2 separate regions of the Homo sapiens genome follow, and region 2 is linked to region 1. The links come from fine-mapping of genetic effects on gene expression. A gene starts in region 1. The other region holds a variant in brackets. All regions are shown on one strand. Distances are between the middles of the regions.

Region 1 (4,386 bases):
CCACATTCAGGTAGGTCTGACTGAAGTCTTCATGTGGCAATGCATCCAATAGTGTGGAACCAGGTTGTTTCAAGATGTGAATCATTCATCAGATCATTTGCCATATGTATTGGCAAATGATTACAAAGCAAGACTTCAGAGTAAGTAAGTTTGTTCTTGGCTTCTGAAAGGGGTGGACAAGTTCTGACCAAAATCTGAGAACATACTCTGACACCAGGAAATTAAAATTTAAAAACAAGCATGCAAAGACAGTAGATTAGAAATTCAATTTGCAATATACAGATAATATTTAATATTACTAAATAAAATCTCATGTGGATTTTACAATTAATTCTATATCACAAATTCATCTGACAGAAAAAGTGGAAATAGCACCTTAAGCCAAGGAAGTCTCCAGAAGACATCTTTGTGAAAGAGGAACAGAGCAGCATTTCTGCACGTGGTAAAGGTTACACTCTCTATGGAAATATTTCTAGAGAGACTGATTAAATAAAGGACATGAGGAGAACCTGGGGATGTTGAAGCATGTAGCATACGGCTTCTTCGAAGTACTCCAGGGATATGTTGTCCATGTTATTGGGGAGATCTTCAAAGTTATAATAAGCTAGAGCCAACGTGGCAAAGCCATGGCCAGCAAGGAGGCTGGCTCGATATTCCAAGAGGCCCCCTCCAATACCAAAGATGTCAATGATCCCTGGGAAGGGTCCAGGTCCTAGAGAACAAAATATTATAAATGTAAGCCATTATACAATTTAAAGAATTTGCTTTCCTGGCTGGACACTGTGGTTCATGCTTGTAATCTCAGCACTTTAGGAGGCCAAGGCAGGAGGATTGCTTGAGGCCAGGAGTTCAAGACCAGCCTGGACAATGTAGTGAGACCCCATCTCTACAATCTTTTTTTTTTTTTAATTAGTCAGTGTGGTGGTGTATGCCTGTAGTCCTAGCTACTTGGGAGGCAATGGAGGGAGGATCACTTGAGCCCCAGAGGTCAAGGCTGCAGTGAGGTGTGACCACACCACTGCACTCCAGCGTGGGCAACAGAGACAGACACTGTCTCAAAAAAAAAAAAAAAAAAAAGAAAGAAAGAAAAGAAAAAAGATTGAAACAAAACTTTATGTTCTGTTGCATCAGCCCTCTGGTTTTTAGTGTACTGATATTTCAGATGTCTATGTAGAAAGGGAGGAAAGAAAAAGAAATACCCAGAGATGGTTTTAGGTGAGAAAGGCAGTGGAGTCTGAAGTGTGACCTGTGATAAAGCAGCACATGAAGAAGTGGAGAAGAGACAGTGTGCCTAGAACACTAGAGAAGACGACATGGTAATAGCTTCATTCACTGTCATCATTCTGCCTTAGACAAGTCAGGCTGATGCCTGTAGAAATCTGTAGGGTAGTGATTAATAGCAAAGTGGATAATGTACCTGACGACCTGAACCTGTTTTTTCATCTGCAGAATAACAATACCAACTTCATTGGGATATTATAGAGACTAACTGATAGAATGCAAGTAAAAACCGTAGTACACAGCCTAACAAAAAATCCTTTTTTTTCTTTTTTCTTTTTTTGAGACGGAGTCTCGCTCTGTCACCCAGGCTGGAGTGCAGTGGTGCGATCTCGGCTCACTGCAACCTCCATCTCCCAGGTTCAAGCGATTCTCGTGCCTCAGCCTCCCGAGTGGCTGGGACTACAGGCGTGTGCCACCAGGCTGGACTAATTTTTGTATTTTCGGTAGAGTCAGCGTTTCACCATGCTGGCCAGTCTGGTCTCAAACTCCTGATCTCAAGTGATCCGCCCATCTCGGCCTCCCAAAGTGCTGGGATTACAGGCGTTAGTCACCACGCCCGGTACCAAACCCTCTATTTTGGTAGAGTGGCCACTGACATAGTCAATGTTAGCTTCTCTGATCTTGCTCCAAAACCAAACCAGTGCTAAATCAGCACTGGAAACAAACGGAGACTCAGGCCACTGACGCTCACACCACCCGCCAGCAGCCTGGCTCACCTGGCGGCAGGAAGAGCGTGGCGCGCACCCGGCCCGCTCGCACCGACTGGCGCCGCACCCCTGGCGGGAGGAAGTGGCGCTCGTGCTGCGCCTGGCACAGCAGCCGTCCAGGCTCGGGGTCGTGGCCGTCCAGCACCTCCAACTCCACGACAAAAGGAATCTGTACGTCCCGCTTCAGGAAGCGCCAAAAAGGCTTCTCGGGTTCCAGGGCCCAGAGCAGCCCCATGGGCTCGAGTCCCGCGAAGCTGCCGCCCAGCGCGGGTGCGCGCTCCAGGTCCAGCTCGCCGCGGGCGTCGGCGCAGTAGCGCGCGTGGGCCCGGAAGAGCGCGCCCTTCTCGTCGCGCAGGGACGCGCGCAGCGTAACCCGCTGCTCCGGGGCCAGGCCGCGCACGGCAATGCGCACCGGCTCGTTCCAGCAGCAGCGGCCTGGGGGCTCCAGGATCAGCGTTGCTGACATCTTGGAGCCGGAGCGGGGAATTCAAAGGTCGAGGCCCGAGACCCGTCCAAGATCGTGGCAAGCGCGCCGAATGTCCGGACGGCGTCCGGCGTCCCCTGGTGCCGGAAGCTGCCGGTGGCTGAGCAGTCCCAGAAAGCCCCTGGGACTTCAGACCGGTTAACCCGGCGCTCCGGACTCGTCTGAGGCAAAAGTAGCCAGGCTCCTCTTCAGGGTCGTCTCCTTGGGCCCCGGGGCGCGCAAGGTGTGGCGCCCAACCCACCCCGTAGAAAGCCTCTCTGCCTCACACCACCCTCGGTTGTTGGAATGAAAGTTGTTGGATGATCAATTTGTGGTGAAACCAAAAGCCAATGAGATCAAGCCAAATTCCAGCCTTTCATGGGCTCCATGGAAGGTTTTGTTTTTAACTTTTTTTTTTTTTGAAACAGAGTCTCCTCTGTCGCCCAGGCTGGAGTGCAGTGGCGCTTCGGCTCACTGCAATCTCCGCCTCCTGGGTTCAAGCGATTCTCCTGCCTCAGCCTCCCGAGTACCTGGGATTACAGGCGCGCGCCACCATGCCGCTAATTTTTGTATTTTTAGTAAAGAGGGAGTTACACCATGTTGGCCAGGCTGGTCTTGAACTCCTGACTTCAAGTGATCTTCCCGCCTTGGCCTCCCAAAGTGCTAGGGATTACAGGCGTGAGCCGCTGCGCCCGGCCTGCTTTTTTGTTGTATTTGAGACAGGGTCTCTCTCTGTCATCCAGGCTGCAAGGCGGTGGCTCGATCACAGGTCACTGCAGCCTCCACCTCCCAGGCTCAAGTGATCCTCCTGTCTCAGCCTTCGGAGTAGCTGTGACTACAGACAGCGCACCACCATGCCACGTTAATTTTTAAATGTTTATTTTTAGAGAGGAGGTGTCACCCTGTTTCCCAGGCTGGTCTCGAACTCCTGAGCACAAACTATCCTCCTGCCTCTGTAGTCCCAAAGTGCTAGTGATACGTGACAGCATGCTGGCTGCCCTCGCTCGCTGTCGGCGCCTCCTCGGCCTTGGCGCCCACTCTGGCCGCGCTTGAGGAGCCCTTCAGCCCGCCGCTGCACTGTGGGAGCCCCTTTCTGGGCTGGCCAAGGCCGGAGTCGGCTCCCTCAGCTTACTGGGAGGTGTGGAGGGAGAGGCGCGGGCGGGAACCGGGGCTGCCCGCGGGGCTTGCGGGCCAGCGCGAGTCCCGGGTGGGCGTGGGCTCGGCGGCCCCGCACTTGGAGCGGCCGGCCGGCCCGCAAGCCCCGGGCAGTGAGGGGCTTAGCACCTGGGGCAGCAGCTGCTGTGCTCGATTTCTCAGCGGGCCTTAGCTGCCTCCCCGCGGCGCAGGGCTCGGGACCTGCAGCCCGCCATGCCTGAGCCCCCGCCCCCGCCGTGAGCTTCTGCGCGGTCCGAGCCTCCTCAACGAGCTCCGCTCCCTGCTCCACTAACGCCCAGTCCCATCGACCGCCCAAGGGCTGAGAAGTGCGGGCGCACGGCGCGGGACTGGCAGGCAGCTCCACCTGCGAACCCCGTGCGGCATCCACTGGGTGAAGCCAGCTGGACTCCTGAGTCTGGTGGGGACTTGGAGAATCTTTATGTCTAGCTAAGGGATTGTAAACACACCAATCAGCACCCTGTGTCTAGCTCAGGGTTTGTGAATACACCAATCGGCACTCTGTATCTAGCTAATCTAGTGGGGAGGTGGAGAACTTTTGTGTCTAGCTCAGGGATTGTAAACGAACCAATCAGCACCCTGTCAAAACGGACCAATCGGCTCTCTGTAAAATGGGCCAATCAGCAGGATGTGGGTGGGGCCAGATAAGGGAATAAAAGCAGGCTGCCAGAGCTAGCAGTGGCAACTTGTTGGGGTTCTTTTCTACGTTGCGGGAAGGTTTGTTCTATTTAGTTTTGTAATAAAGGTAGCTCAGTTTTTGGG
Region 2 (4,386 bases), 21 kb before region 1:
TTTTTTTTGAGATGGAGTCTTGCTCTGTCCTCCAGGCTGGAGTGCAACGGTGCGATCTTGGCTCACTGCAACCTCTGCCCCCTGGGTTCAAGAGATTCTCCTGCCTCAGCCTCCTGAGATTACAGGCACCCACCACCATGCCCGGCTAACTTTTGTATTTTTAGTAGAGACGGGGTTTCACCATGTTGGTCAGGCTGGTCTCGAACTCCTGACCTCAGGTGATCCACCTGCCTCGGCCTCCCAAAGTGCTGGGATTACAGGCGTGAGCCACTGCGCCCGGCTCCTTGTTTGTTTTTAATGAAAGGTTTTAGTTGATTCTTAGTCAGTGTGATTTTTTTTTTTTTTTTTTTGAGACAGGGTCTCGCTCTGTCGCCCAGGCTGAAGTGTAGTGGCGCAATCTTGGCTCACTGCAACCTCAGCCTCCCGGGTTCAAGCGATTCTCCCACCTCAGCCTCCCTAGTAGCTGGGACTACATGTGTGAGCCACTATGCCTGGCTAATTTTTTTGTATTATATAATTAGTAGAGGTAGGGTTTTGCCATGTTGGCCAGGCTAGTCTTGAACTCCTGGCCTCAAGTGATCCACCCACCTCAGCCTCCCAAAGTGCTAGGATTACAGGTGTGAGCCACTGCGCCTGGCCCAGTCAGTATGATTTATTGAGCTCCTACTATATCCTTGCGAAAGCCTCTAGGAACATGGATATTTAGAAATCTGTAAGACCCAATTCCAGCCCCAGGAATTCACAGTACAGTGGGCAGCCACGAGTTAAGGCTAAGAATTGCTGAAGAGCTGTAAAAATAAAGCAAGTTTTCTTGTTTTGGAGAATAATCACAGAATTCGGTTTAAGGATTCTATGTGCTGTTGCAACTCTAGAATTTGTTGTTGTTGTTGTTGTTTGAGGCAGGGTTTCACTCTGTTGTCCAGGCTGGAATGCAGTGGCGTGATCTCAGCTCACTGCAACCTCTACTTCCTGATATCAAACAATCCTCCCACCTCAGCCTCCCAAGCAGCTGGGACTACAGGCATGCACCACCATGCCTGCCTAATTTTTTTTTTTTTTTTTTTTTTTTTGTAGAGACAGAGTTTCACCATGTTGCCCAGGCTGGTCTTGAACTCCTGGGCTCAAGTGATCTGCCCACCTCAGCCTCCCAAAGTGCTGGGATTACAGGCCTGAGCCACTGTGCCCGGCTCATCATTTTTATATGGTAGAGGTTTAAGTCAGGAATTTAGTTAGAAGGGATTAATCAGGAGTCTTCTTTCTGGGCTACCTTTACCTAGCAAACATCCTGTGTTTACTTAGACTAGGGTTCCTCAACCTCAGTAGTACAGACATTTTCAGCAAGATAATTCTTTGTTCTGGTGGTTGTCCTGTGCATTGTGGAATGTTTAGCAGCATCTCTGGCCTCTGCCTGCTAGATGCCAATAGCACCTCTCCCTTCAGATATGACAACCACAAATGTCTCCAGATATTGCCAAATTTCCCCCAGGGAGGGCGGCTAATCATTGCAGGTTGAGAACCACGTACAGCATGTTTATGATAGAAGGGAGAGGACTGTCAGGCAGTTTTGTGTGTGTTTTTAAACAATTAAAGGGCATTGCCAATACTGTGGATTTTAGCTTCTTTGGAAGTTTGATGTGAAAGGAGGCAAAAATCCTTCTTGCACATCAGCTTAAGGTTTTGCCCATATCGTATTCAAACAAAACCACATGGCTGGCACATAGTGGCTCTCAATAAATATATAATAAGTTGAATGCACTATTCAGCACATAGCTAAAGTGGTGGTGCCTCCAGGGAGGGACGTGAAACTTAAAAAGGAAAGACTGGAGTAGCTACTCAGGAGGCTGAGGCGAGAGGACTTGAGCCCAGGAGTTCGAGGCTGCAGTGTGAGCTACGATCCAGCCACGGCACTCCAGCCTGGGCAACAGCGGACGCCCAGACTCAGAATCCATGACAGACTCTGGAGCGAAGGAACAAGTTCAGGGATGTTCCACAATCACGCGATTCCCAGGACAGGAAAGGGGCCGGTGGGGGTCGCAGAGCTCGACCAAATTCTGGGCAGACTACTCATCCGGCGGCAGGAAGAGCGCGGCGCGCACCGGGCCCGCGCGCACCGGCTCGCGCCGCACCCCCGGCCGGAGAAAGTCGCGCTTGTTCTGCGCCAGGCACAGCAGCCGCCCGGGCTCGGTGTCGTGGCCGTCCAGCACTTCCAGCTCCACGGCGAAGGGCGTCCGCACGTCGCGCTTCACCAGCCGCACCAAGGCTTTCTCGGGCTCCAACGCCCACAGCAGCCCCATGGGCTGGAGCCCCGCGAAGCTGCCTCCCAGCGCGGGCGCGCGCTCCAGGTCCAGCTCGTCGCGGGCGTCGGCACGGTAGCGCGCGTGGGCCCGGAAGAGCGCGCCCTCTTCGT[C/T]GCGCAGGGACGTGCGCAGCGTGACTGGCTGCTCCGGGGCCAGGCCGCGCACTGCGATGCGCAGCGGCTCGTCCCAGCAGCAGCGGCCCGCGGGCTCCAGGATCAGCGTCGCTGCCATCCCAATCTGGGTAGAACAGGGGCGACCCAGCTCCGCGGAGTCAGTGGGCGGGCCTGGCGGCTTTGCCGAGCGCTGGAAAGTAGTCGAGGGCGGAGCCCTTAACACTACTCCCATTGGTTGGACTTGGGGACAGGCTCCAGGCCGCTGCGTGGGGCGCCTAGAATTTGTGCAAATACACCAGTGTCCCAAATGAAAGAGTATCTGCTGAAATAAGAGTTAATGACCAATCCGGCCGGGGGCGGTGGATCACGCCTGTGATCCTAGAACTTTGGGAGGCCGAGGTGGGTGGATCACACCTGAGGTTAGGAGTTCAAGACCAGCCTGACCAACAGAGTGAAACCTCATCTCTACTGAAAATACAAAATAGCCAGGTGTGGTGGCGCATGCCTGTAATCCCGGCTACTTGGGAGGCTGAGGCAGAAGAATTGCTTGAACCCAGGAGGCAGAGGTTGCATTGAGCCAAGATTGCACCATTGTACTCCAGCCTAGGCAACAAGGGCAAAACTCCGTCTAAAAAAAAAAAAAAAGAGTTAATGACTATTCCTGCAATCCAATGTGGTGAGTGTCGAAATAGAGGCACAAAAACCACTGAGAGCTAAAGGATTGAGAGAGATACAGTCCAAGAATCTAGATTTTGAAAAAGCATCCCAGGTGATTGTACTCAGGTGACCCCTTGGAGAAACATGGTCGTAATCCGTCCTTTACCCCTCAGTCCCTTACCAAGCCTTTTTTCCAGGGCTAATGGTACCTGGAGCAAAGCAGATGTTTAGGGAGGCAGACCTAGCCGAGTTCTGGTCTGACCCTGATCCTTAATATTAATACCTGGTGATCTTTAGCAAGAAACATAACCCTCTAAATTCAGTTTTCTTATCTGAAAAGGCTTATTGTGACCATTAAATGGGCTAATGTGTAAAAACACTACACTGACACACCTGTAGGTTAGTACCCAGTGAAAGTTTTGTTTTGTTTCTTACCTCACAAATCTAATCACTGGCAGAGTCCATTTTGGGTTGTATGCATACAGAGTTCTGGCAGTAAGCAAGTGGCACTCTCAGCCTGTGTAATTGAGGAGAGTTTTATAAAGGTACTATCTACAAAGGCATGGGCAAGATTTAAAAACAAAAACAATGAAACAAGATTCGGTGTAGAACCCTGAATCTGAAGGTTCAAGGGAAGGGGGCAGTCTGATAGGAGTTGTACCTTTTTTAGAAGGAACCTATGGTTTGTGGCAGGAAGGAGGAGACTATAAGTCCCTTGACTCTCCTCTTGTTTTTCAGTATCTTGCTAATGCCTCTCTTTGGCCAAACCCAACCACACAGCTCAACCTAGCTGGGAACATAGCAGGGTGGAGAAGGAAGAAGAGCATATAGTGATGCCCAGCTCAGTAAACATGTATAAACTGAACAAAAAGGTATTAGACTCTATGAAGCAAGTTCACTGTATGCTGGTTACCAACTTGTCTGAGTCCAGTGAGAAAACACATTCATATATTTAATACAACAATTTACATGAACTGGATTTATTACTTACAGATAGGCAGCAAAGAATGACAGAAGCCTAAGAATCATTGGAAACCAGTCCCCCAAGGCTCAGGAATGCTGCCTGGGTGATGGAATCTCATGTGTGTGTGCCCCACTTGCACTGCAGCTGCCCTGAGTTTTGTACTCTGGGGTCATGTGACTGCTGGGTTAAAGCATTGAAAGACATCCTGTTTGTAGGGAGGGGCTGGAATAGAGCCAGGGCTATTCCAGCCAGTCCGTCCCTCTCTCAGGATGTTACATTCCCAGCACGTTCTATGCTTGAGAACTACTAGTGAGAAAGAGGGGAGAACTGAGTCAGTCCAAGGCCAACCAGAGAACTG

The links. PIP is the estimated chance that this variant, and not a neighbour inherited with it, causes the effect.
Region 2: its variant is fine-mapped to the expression of ACOT4 in whole blood (TOPMed, PIP above 0.99).

Annotation. Positions count from the first base shown.
Region 1 is chr14:73,590,028-73,594,413 of GRCh38, reverse strand. ACOT4 (acyl-CoA thioesterase 4) reads right to left here and starts at 2,541. Exons shown (of 3, transcript NM_152331.4): 1 at 1,998-2,541; 2 at 510-712. The coding sequence starts at 2,454. It also overlaps a transcript of HEATR4 not described here. RefSeq lists a silencer at 1,927-1,996 and an enhancer at 1,808-2,307.
Region 2 is chr14:73,610,711-73,615,096 of GRCh38, reverse strand. It overlaps ACOT6 (acyl-CoA thioesterase 6), which reads right to left and starts at 2,580. Exons shown (of 3, transcript NM_001365788.1): 1 at 2,065-2,580. The coding sequence starts at 2,525. It also overlaps a transcript of HEATR4 not described here. RefSeq lists a silencer at 1,000-1,244 and enhancers at 2,320-2,369, 1,903-2,402, 2,420-2,469. The variant C/T (reference allele first, on the strand shown) is at 2,408.